Linked DNA regions of Homo sapiens: region 1 is linked to region 2. A link means that fine-mapping ties the variant in region 2 to the plasma level of a protein whose gene starts in the linked region. Region 2 holds a variant in brackets. A gene starts in the other region. All regions are shown on their forward strands.

Region 1 (5,000 bases), not on the chromosome of region 2:
TCATCGGCCCCAAAGGACTTGCTTTGTCCTTTAAAGGCAAATCCTGCCCAGGAAGTGAGACGGAGTGAACACAAAAAGAGCAAACAGCTCTCAGGAAACCTCCCTACATATCCGCCGCCATCTACCATGCAGGGCTGGCAGTGGGCAGGGCTCCGCTGCTCCGTCCAGGCCTCAGATGCCCCAGCCTTTCCCCCGCCTGGGTCGGGAGGGAGTGGTAAAGAGTTGCCTTTTTGGAGAATCTAGGTAGGGAAAAGAGATTCCCAAAGCTTGAAAATAAATTGAAACAGATCTGCCAGATCCACAATTCATCTTTGGCTTCTTAAGGTCACAAGCAGTCTCGGGGACTATTTCCATTCCACCTTCCTCTAGCTCTTAGCTGGCTTTTCACATATGCTAATGAGCGGCCCCTCCCAGCACACTGTGTTCAGCACCAGTTGCCTGCTTCACGAGAACTAGTCCCAGCCCACAGTCACGGATGCCCCTCGCCTAGGTCTGACCCGCCGTTTGCCTTTCTAGCGTTGGCACTCAACTGCTTGGACCCTACAAGCGTTTGCCTCCCTGGCATGGGGGCCTCTGAATCTTAGGGTGGGAGGTGGAGCTACGGAAGGGAGCCCAGGAGTGAGCAACAGATCAGCAGCAGCACTGCGCCCCTCTTCTTAATATTGAAGAGACTTGAAACAATTCAGTCTTCGCCACCCCAGACCAGCCCGTGAGGGCAAGGCCAGGAAGGGATACAGGGTTCTAGAGAACCAGGGCCTCACCGCCAGCTCCGGCCGCTAAGCAAACATTCCCTCCAGGAGTCCGAGAAGCCGGTGTGCGAGGGGAGGAACCAGCCTGAGGTTTATCGCTCCAGCAACTCCGGGTGATTCATAGAGTTTAGACTCCCGGTTGTCGTAGACCGCGGCAGGCACGCAAACAAGCAGCCCGGGAGATACCCTCCCCTTTCCCAGCCCCCGCTCCTCCACCTTGCTACCCCCTAGCCCGTGACCAGCTGCCTCCCCTCCCCCTCGCGGGCGCTCAGGGTTGAGCAAACACTCCGGGCCGCCCGCCCCGCCACCAGCTGGCTCCGACCGGCGCACCGCTGGCGATCCCCCAGGCAATTCGGCGTCATGAGAACCGGCACCCCGAGACTCGGCGCCCTGCCCTCCCTCCGCGTCTCCAGGGCCCTGGCCAGGCCCAACAACCTCTCCCTCCTCTGTGCGCCTCAGCCCCTACGGGCCTCTGGCGCGGGCTAACTAGGCCTCGCTGCGGGCCCCCAGGACTGCGCACCCCACCCCCCGCGAGGCCAGCAGCCCCGGGGGAAGGCGGCCGGAAAATCTCTTGTTTATCGGGCTGGATAAGTACCAGCCTGGATTCGCTTCCCAATTTCTGCGGTCCAGCTTCAGCAGATTCCTGGGGCCGGAGGGGAAAGGGTGGCAACCCACAGATCCACCCCGGAACAGGGAGTGGGGGGTGGGGCTGGTGGGAACCTGACCTCCTGGAAAGGACGGACTCGGAGTCAGAGCCAACGTGTCCCGGAGCGCAGAGGCCCAGGGGGTCGCGCTAAACACTGTACCTCGGGGAACAAAACCGTGAAGGCTAATTAGGACAAGTCGGAGCAGGGAACGGGGACGCCGGGAGGGGAGAGCGCGCTCCGAGTTGGGCAGAACCTGGAACGGTCACAGGAAACCCGGGCGCGGGGTAGTCGGGCCGAGGGGGACCTTTGCCCACGGTCCAGAGTGGTCTGGACTCGGCCCACGCGTGAGAGGAGCGCTTGGTGACGATCCCACGTACGCTTGGTGACTGGTGGAGGTCCCAGAGAAGGACCGTGCGTGCAAAAGGCGAACCTCGGTGTGCGGTGTGTCCACGTGTGCAAGCTGGGGAGGGGAGGGGGCGCAGAAGGCGTGACAAAGACGGACTCTGTCTTGAGTGTGCGCCTCGCTCCGGCCCGCTCCCAGCGAACTGTGCCTGAAGTGTGTCTCACGGGAGGGCCAGGACGAAGGTGACAAAGGCTAGGTGTCCCCCACGGAGACGCGCCAAGGTAGCCCCGCGCGTGTCCGTAGGCGCGCTCTCTGGAAGACGCGGTGGGGGGTGCGCAGGGCTGCACCCTCACACCAATTGCCCCGGCGAAGGCCGAGCCCAGAAAGTGAGTGCGCGTGAGTGTGCGCGCGCCCGCATGCGGGGGCGTGGCAGTCAACAGCAACAACCCACACGCCGGCAGGGCCAGAAACTCCCATCTCCCTCACCAGCCGGAAAGTACGAGTCGGCTCAGCCTGGAGGTGAGTCGGGGCGGGGAGGGCCGGGCAGGCTTTGTTCCTGTGTAAACGGAGCGCACGTACCTGGAGCGCGGCGGGCGCCCGATTAGCGCCCTGAATGGAGGTGATGTAACGGTGATGCAGGCTCCAGCCCACCCTCGCCGAAAGCAAGGAGCCCTGCCTGGGGACAGGCCCGCGCGAGAGCGAGCAACCCAGCGCGCCTGGCTCAGCCTCGGTCCCAGGGAGAGGCAGGCCCTGCGTCCCGGCCCGGGCCCCGCCATCCCAGCCAGGACCGGGCCTGGCCCAGCGCCCCGCGCCGCGTCCCTCCCACCCCCGCCCGCCCCCCGCCTGGGGCTGGAGTTGGCCCCAAACGCTGCGCTGGAGCGGGGCCGGCGGCGAGTCCCAGGTAAGGGCTGCTGCCTTCCCGCTCCGCCGCCCGGAAGAGTCGGGTCGGGACGGCGGGGAGTGGGCGAGGGCAGAGGCGGGGGGACTGGACATCCTGCGGGCTGGGGACGCCGCGCCAACTCCGCTCGGTCGCTGAAAGTTTTCAAACCCGAGCCGGCTGGGGACTGGGGGGGTGGGGGAGCCCGGCGCTGCGGCTCGGGCTGGAGGGAGGGGAAACCACTCCATAATCGGGGTCTCCAAGAGGAGCCCCTCCACCGCCTGCCTCTCGGTGGGAGTCCGCGGTCACTCTCTCTCGTGGGTGGCGTCCTCTCTGCCGCCTGCTACTGTGGATGTGGAGGGCAGGTTTCTGTGGCCCTAAAAATGGGAGAGAGTGACTGGTTCCCTTGCTCCCCATTCCAGCCACCCAGGGAGCGCAGGTGTAGACCCCAGTACCGTCGACCCAAGTAGGGACGAGAGGGTTCAGAATCCCCCTGAGGGAAGTTTGGAAATTCAGACTATCAAAGCGCCTCCCCTTCTGGTAGCCTGGCCCCTAGATCCCGAACCCCCACTCCCGGCTGGCTTTTCCAGCGTCCTTTGCACCTCCATCCCCAGGCCCGCAGTGTTACACGCTGGAAGACCCAATCACTTACAAACTCCACGATCAAGATCCTAAAGCCCGGGAGAGGAGACTGTTGGAAGTAGGGTTTTGTGCTCCTGGAGCTTCCTCTCCCCGCCGGCCCCCCACCCCTGTGCCTTCAACTGGACTGGGGGAGGGAGTGCATTGGGGGGTGGGGCGCATTCCAGAGTGACATTCCAGAGCAGACCCTTGAAGATTTCCAAGTCTCAGAGAGCTCAGGGCATTTTGGCCCAAATGCCTGGTCTTGGTGCGGGGCAGGGGCAGGGGGATAGGGGTGGGGTGTCTAGGCTGAGGTTCGAGGAACCCCAACCCACCCCCCACCAACCTACACACTGAGGCCGCTCCTTCCAGGCACAGGCGTCTCCTGTGCGCCTTCTTATCGATGGGGTAAACGCCTGAGCGCCCTGCACAGAGGGGTGAGACAGTGGGACCTAACCAGGGACTGGGAGAGACCGATAGGAGTGGAGGCAGGAAGGCTGTCAGTCGGGCCATCGTCTTTCCCTATAGGCTCTTGAGTGTGTGGGATGGGAGGAAGGCAAGTGCTCTGTGGTATCCCTGGGGGAACCTCCCTGAAGAGTGCCCTGGTCACAGCACCCTTGAAGACAGCCATTGGCCATGGGTCAGTGTTGAGTTTGGTTGGCCCTGTGACGCGCTGGAGCTCTCTTTCCAGTGCGGTATCCTTGGCCCTGGTGGGTGGAGGGGGTCTCAGGCTTGTGTGTGGATGATGCTGGAGCGAGGAAGGGAGTTTTGCTCTGGAGAAGTGAGAAGGCCTGGCTGTCTCCCCGGTTGCTGGATGAAGCCACTTGTTGCTGGGGGAAACCAGTCAGGGCTGCTTGGGCCTCTGGGCCTCTGAGCCTCTGAGCCCACCAGGCCTCTGCGCCCCCTGGAGAGAGAAGGAGGGAGGAGGGAGGTTCAGCAACTGGACTGCACTGACTCACAGGAGAGCTGGGGGCAGGGTGGCTGAGCCTGGGGAAAGGCCGATTTCGGAGGCGATTAAAAATATTTGTACAACTGATTCCAGGGAAGTGAAGCAAAAGGCCCTTTTGTCCAGAAAATAATCTGAGGCTGGAGCTGGGCTTCAGCTGTGGGGTGGGGGAGACTCAGGGCGGAAGGAGGTTCCCCTCCTACCCCCCTCCTTGAACCCTCTGAGAATCTTTAAGCAGAAGATGCAACTCCAACATGGAGGGGACAACCCTGGGTGTGGAGAAATGCACCTGGGACCATCCAGAGGTGACTTCCAAATGCCCACTGTGTTCAGGCACAGCACCAGCTGTGGCAGTGGATTCTAGAAGTCTTGTTCACCAGCTTCAAAGACCTTACAGCCCTGGAGGGGAGACACGGACATGATTTGAACGTTCAGGGATCAGAAGGCTCAGTCTTAGTGCAGGGTCTGGGGACCCACAGGAGGCAGAAGTTTCCTCCAGGGTCCTGAGGAAAAGCCTCTGACCAGAGCTGAGTCCATCTTGTCAGTCCCTTAGCCACCATCTTAAAAGGTGGCATTGGGCCGGGAACGGTGGCTCACACTTGTAATCCCAGCACTTTGAGAGGCTGAGGTAGGTGGATCACCTTAGGTCAGGAGTTTGAGACCAGCCTGGCCAACATAGTGAAACCCTGTCTCTACTAAAAATACAAAAATTAGTTGGGCATGGTGGTGGGCACCTGTAATCCCAGCTACTCGGGAGGCTGAGGCAGGAGAATTGCTTGAACCTGGGAGTTGGAGGTTGCAGTGAGCCGAGATCATGCCA
Region 2 (5,505 bases):
GAGTGGGGAAGAGGCCTCAGAACAAAGGTGGGGGAGTCAGAACATACGTGTCTTGGAAATGGAGGGGATGCTGCCAAGTCCAGAAAGTCTCCCCTAGTCCTCTAAGCCAGCCGCCAGCTGACACAGGGATTCCCTCTGCCCCGAGCAGAACAGGGCTCTCCTATCTCCTGAGGGGCTCCTGGTTCCCTGCACACTCTCCCCAACCTCCCCTTGGTCCCAGGCACCATCCTCTAAATGACAGCAGTCTCCAGATGCCAGTTGGCACTGTGGGTTAGCTGGGTATTATATCTGCCCGTGTGTGTTGAATGGATACCTGCGTGGTCTCTTTCTGAAAAGCCATCTCCACCGAATTCTCGCCCATGCTCTGCTTACAAACACGCCTCCTTCTGCAAGGCCCGGAGTGGACTCAGAGAGCCTCTCCCCTCCCCACCTCCTGCCCCCATTCCTCTCCCGCTCCCCACAGGCTGGCTCCAGACCACAAGAGCGTGGGAACCTCATGGAGAGTGGGTGCTTCCTCTGTCTTCCTCCCTAGCCCTTGCTTTAGCACAGCCAGGGCAGAGAGGAGGAAAGAAGGAAACTACAGCAAGGAGGATTTAGGGACAATTCTAGAAGGGATTTCCAATTTGGAGGGGCAGTCTGGGAAGTAGGCAGCCTGTGAACTTAATAGGAGGTCCTAAAGGACCTGGGGGAATTTGGGGAGAAGACGAGGTGGGCTGCCTTACCCCAATCTTCTGGCCCACTCCCAGCTCCAGACCCACCTCCAGGTGTAGCAGGCCCCCAGGCCCAACAGCAGGAGCAGGAGGCCCACCAGCAGTCCCAGGACCCAGAGCAGCTGCTGGAACTGATGCAGGCGGTGCAGGGCTGGAACACAGAGCGGGACTCAGAGCAGCCACAGCTGCAGGCCCCCAGTGCTTCCTTCCAAGGGGACCCACCCAAGATGACACCTTCTAACTTTTGCTTTATCGCTGAAGCTCTCCACACAAGGGTGCCCCGAGCAATCAGTTTAGAGTCGACAGGCAAATCATGCTGCAGCAGGAGGGATACAGGGAAGGAAGCCTTTGGGCCTAAGAGCTGGGCTTTTGTGCAGAGTGGCCTGGGAGATGGAGCCCCCTCCCCTCACCTCTGACCCCAAAGTAGGTGGAGGTAGAGGCAGAGCCCAGGACATTTGAGGCAGAACAGATGTATTCCCCTTGGTCGCTGGGCCTCAGCGCCTCGATGTCCACCCTCAGGGCATTGGGGGAAGCCAGGACATGGATGTGTGGCTCTGCAGGAGCACCCTGGGGCTGACTGGAGGCCACCAGTCGACTGCCAAGGTGGAGAGTCAGGCTGGCGAGCGGCTCGCTGTCCACTCGGCAATCCAGGATGCCCCGGAGGCCACCCTCAGGCTCCACGAAGACCATCATGGTGGGCGTCTTGGGAGGGTCTGTGGGGAGGAAGGGAGTGTGGTGATTGCAGACAATGACCACAAATTTCTCCCTCCCTGTACCCATGCACAGTGACTTTGCTGCTCCTCCCATTAAGAGGCAGAACCTATTTCCTCACTCCTTGAATCTGTGACTCAGTTTGACCAATTGAAGAAAGAAGTGATGTTGTGCAACTTCAGAGCCAGACCTCAAGAGGCCTTGTAGCTTCTGCTCTACTTGTTGGAACACAACAATGTGGGAAGCCCAGGCCAGCCTGCTGGGCACATGTGGCCCAACTGGCAGCCAGGAGCGTGCAGTCATCTGAGACCACTGGGCAACTGCAGCCACATGAGGTGTGAACAACAGAAGAACTCCCCAGCTGAGCCCAGCCCACAGAATTGAGCAGATAACATGACTTTTGTTTGAAGCAGTAAGTTTTGTTGTGGTCAATAGCAATAGCTGACTGATACAGTGTAGGCCTTGGTGAAGGCTGGAGTGGGAGACCAAGACTGATGAGGGCTTATCGTGTGCCAGACACACTCAGCACGCTTTATTTCTTTTGGTTTTTTCTCTTCTTTTCTTTTCTTTTTTTTTTTTTTTTCTTGAGACAGAGTCTCAGTCTGTCACCCAGGCTGGAGTGCGTTGTGGTGATCTTGGCTCACTGCAACCTCCACCTCCCAGGCTCAAGTGAGTCTCCTGCCTCAGCCTCCTGAATAGCTGGGATTACAGGTGTGTGCCTTCATGCCGTGCTAATTCTTGTATTTTTAGTAGAGACGGAGTTTCGCCATATTGACCAGGCTAGTCTTGAACTCCTGACCTCAAGTGATCCGCCCACCTCAGCCTCTCAAAGTGCTGGGATTACAGGCATAAGCCCCTGCACCAGCCATTTATTTCTTATACAACTTGCAGGATGAGGCGAATGATGTATTCCCCATTTTACAAGGTCACCCAACCAGACAGCGGGAGAGCCAGGATTCCAACCCAGGACTCAATATCCGTGAAGCCTTCACTCTTGGCAGACAGAAGAGGAGGAAGAACTGAGGTGGGCGTGTGAGATGTGGGGAGACTAAGGCGGAGGAGGGGGTTCACACTCACAGAGCACACGGAGCATGACTGGAGCAGAGGCAGCAGCCCCAGTGGGGAGCTCAGCCAGG[C/T]AGTGGTACATCCCAGCTTGAGCACGAGCCACGTGGGTGAAGGCGAGAGTGGGCACAGGCTCCGCGTGCAGCCGCCGGTCATTCCAGAACCATGCAAAGGTGGAGTTGCCCACAGGCCCAGGGCCACCCAGGAGGCGGCAGCTGAGGTTCAGGGCAGCGCCCTCAGGCACGTCCAGGCCAGGCTCTGCCACCACGCGTGCACCTGCGGGCGGAGGATAGAGAGATGATTGGGGATCTGTAGGCCTTGGGGGCTGGAGCCTCTGGGTGGGACCTCTGAGGGGCCTCTGCACATTGTGGGAAGGTCTCAGTCTGACTTGGTATAGGGCTTTCCAAGGTGGAACCATGCCCCCTCCAGTGGGAGCTGTGCCCCCTCCACCAGATTAGGCTTCTCAAGGCAGAGCTTTCTCAGACCAGACAGCCCGCTCTAGTGGGAGCTCCAGCCCCTCTCGTGGACTTGGACCTGAGAGCATCAGAGCCCCTCCTCCTCCCCTCTCTTCCACTCACCTTCTACCTGCAACCGCCCGATGGTGCTGATTGAGCCCAGCAAGTTTTGGGCTGTGCAAACATAGGTGTCATCACCTGCAGGCACATCTTGCACCTGCAGCCGTAGGGCGTTTCGGGCCACCTGGACATGGCCTGTCCCTGATGCCAAGCTGTGGACCCCGCTGCTCGTGGCCAGCACCTTGCCATCATGAGATAGGGCCAGCTCAGCAGGTGGCTCACTGTCCACAGTGCACTGTATCACAGCCATGGATCTGGCCCTGGAGTCCCGGAAGGAGGACAGGACAGCGTCCTGAGGGGCATCTGTGGGCAGGCAGGGCACAGATGGGGACCTTGCTTAGGCACCCTGTACTGCTCATTGCCTAGCTGCCTGGGGTTGGTCAGGCTGAGGCCTCTGGACCAATGGCCACTTCCTAGAAGTGACACCTTCCCAGGAGTCCTGTGGGCAGAGTGCTCCAGGCAGGGCTTATAGGACTGTCTCTTTCTCTAGCACCTATGTCCTCTTTCCCCAACTGCCCATTCCTGGGCCCACTGCAGTCCTTTGCCCACTCCCACCAGAGCCCAGAAGCACCCTCCACCACCCTCCTCCTGGGCAGCCCTGGCCAAGGACCCTCTGCTCACAGAGGACTTGCAGGGCAGCAGGACGGGAGCTGCGGGTGCCCTGGGCATCCTGGGCCTGGCAAGAGTAGGCGCCTGCATGAGCCCGCGTGGCCACCAGGAATGAGAGTGAGGCAGCTGGACCCTCCTGCAGCCAACGACCGTTGTGGTACCAAGTATAGAGTGTGGGTGCGTGGGCAGCAGGGTCCGCACAGGTCACTGTGATGGGGGCACCTTCAGGCACGGCAGCCTCCGGAGCCAGGATCACCCGCACACCTGTGCCAAGGAGGCCAGGATCAGCCGGGCCCAGCCGGACACCACAGTGGGCTTCCATCCCAGTGGGCTTGGCCTAGGCCCTGCCTTACCCTCCAGCCGCAGCTCCAGGGACGTGTTGGCCTGGCCCAGAGGGCTGCGGGCAGAGCAGCTGTAGAAACCCTCATCCCTGGGCTGTGGCCCTCGCAGCTCCAGGCGCAGGGTGTTGGGGACAGAGGCTGCTGTCGAGGAGGCCAAGAGGCGACCGGCGTGGCTGAGGGCCAGCTGGGCGGGCGGGCGGCTGTCCACAGTGCACAGTACCAGGGCCAGCTGCCCGCCATGGCTCTCCAGGAGGTAGGTCAGGCGCAGGTTGCGGGGCGCGTCTGCAGGGCATGAGAGGCTTACACGGAGTCACAGGCAGCAGCCTGCAGGAGGCCAGTTTGCAGGTGGCATTCAAACTCAGGAGGGCCCTGGCTCCCCACCCCTATGGCTCCCAACCACCCAGTCTGAGGCACTGCTCCTCTGCCCAGACAGGACTCACCCCAGCGCCCCCTACTCTTAATGCTCCTTGCCCAGTGCTCCACTAGCTACTGGGTACCGAGTTCCCCACTGGACACCTGTCGGGTTCCGGCCATGCCGTGATCCCTGTGGGCTTCTGTCATTCCTGTGAGTCCCACCCTGCATCCAGCCAGACTCACAGAGGACGTCCAAGGTGATAGGTCTGGAGAGGCGGGGTGCCCGACCAGGGGGGCCCACACCGCAGCGGTAGGAGGTGGCATCCCTGACTGTGACGTTGGGCAGGGGGATGGAGTGGGCATCCAGGCGCTGCTGCCCATCCTGGTACCATGTGTAGGTGAGCTGGGCCGGGTGAGTGGTCCACACAAGGCAGGTCAGGTTCACCAGCTGCCCCTCCCGCACGGTAGCCCCGGGCCACACCTGCACATTCACAGCTGGGGAGAGGGAGGGCACAGGACACCAGTGAGGGTCTTGAGGCTGTGTACAGCAGGCCACCTGTCTCCATGTGGGTGAGCTACTCCTACTGCTGGGGAGCCCCTTGGCCTTTGGGAGCCTTGGGTGGCCCACCTATAAATGTGGCTTAGAAGTCAAGCTTGGGAATAGCCCACTGGCTCCTGAGTGGTCCCAAGTAGAGTTCCACAGAGTCCTGGAAAGCCCTGAGCCCCTCCCTGACCCTGGCTGGGGGCAAATGGGGAGACCACAGACCTCCCCTCCCCTGCTGCACTTTCTCCTGAAATTCCCTGTTTAGTTTTATCCACTGGGCATACTTGTAAAATTTGGTGTTTATAAAAGGTTCTCCTAAGAAACTCAAGTCTGGAGTCCACCATCGTTAGGAAGGGTGGGAATGGGGACTATTCCCGTGCCCCCAGGCTTCTAGAACCCTGTCCCACCTCCTCTCCTCTTTTAAAGGACACACACACACACACACACACACACACACACACACACACACTGACCTTGAGCGTCGAAGTCAGCTGAGGCCGAGGCCTGGCCCAGGGTGTTGGAGGCCTCACAGATATAGACACCCTCATCCTCCAGCATAGCCCCGTGGATCTCCAGACGCAGTGTGTTGGGGGCCACAG

Which allele goes with the higher level. Positions count from the first base shown, and alleles are read on the strand shown. Strength reflects both the effect of a copy and how common the allele is.
In carriers of allele T in region 2, the plasma level of the protein whose gene starts at base 2,205 in region 1 tends to be higher than with C alone (weak association).

What was found. PIP is the chance, under the fine-mapping model, that this variant and not a neighbour inherited with it causes the effect. The UK Biobank Pharma Proteomics Project read protein levels with antibody pairs (Olink). The fine-mapping took linkage between variants from a reference panel, not from the people measured, so its PIPs are less certain.
Region 1: GPRC5C starts here. The variant in region 2 is fine-mapped to the plasma level of the GPRC5C protein (UK Biobank, PIP above 0.99).

Annotation. Positions count from the first base shown.
Region 1 is chr17:74,429,884-74,434,883 of GRCh38, forward strand. GPRC5C (G protein-coupled receptor class C group 5 member C) reads left to right here and starts at 2,205. Exons shown (of 4, transcript NM_022036.4): 1 at 2,205-2,258. RefSeq lists a silencer at 1,078-1,217.
Region 2 is chr20:3,688,842-3,694,346 of GRCh38, forward strand. It overlaps SIGLEC1 (sialic acid binding Ig like lectin 1), which reads right to left. Exons shown (of 22, transcript NM_023068.4): 13 at 5,380-5,505; 14 at 4,606-4,857; 15 at 4,021-4,290; 16 at 3,680-3,931; 17 at 3,062-3,361; 18 at 2,499-2,759; 19 at 1,121-1,423; 20 at 759-861; 21 at 314-386. Among named protein-coding and RNA genes, the nearest start is that of ADAM33, 9.6 kb to the left of the region's middle. The variant C/T (reference allele first, on the strand shown) is at 2,558.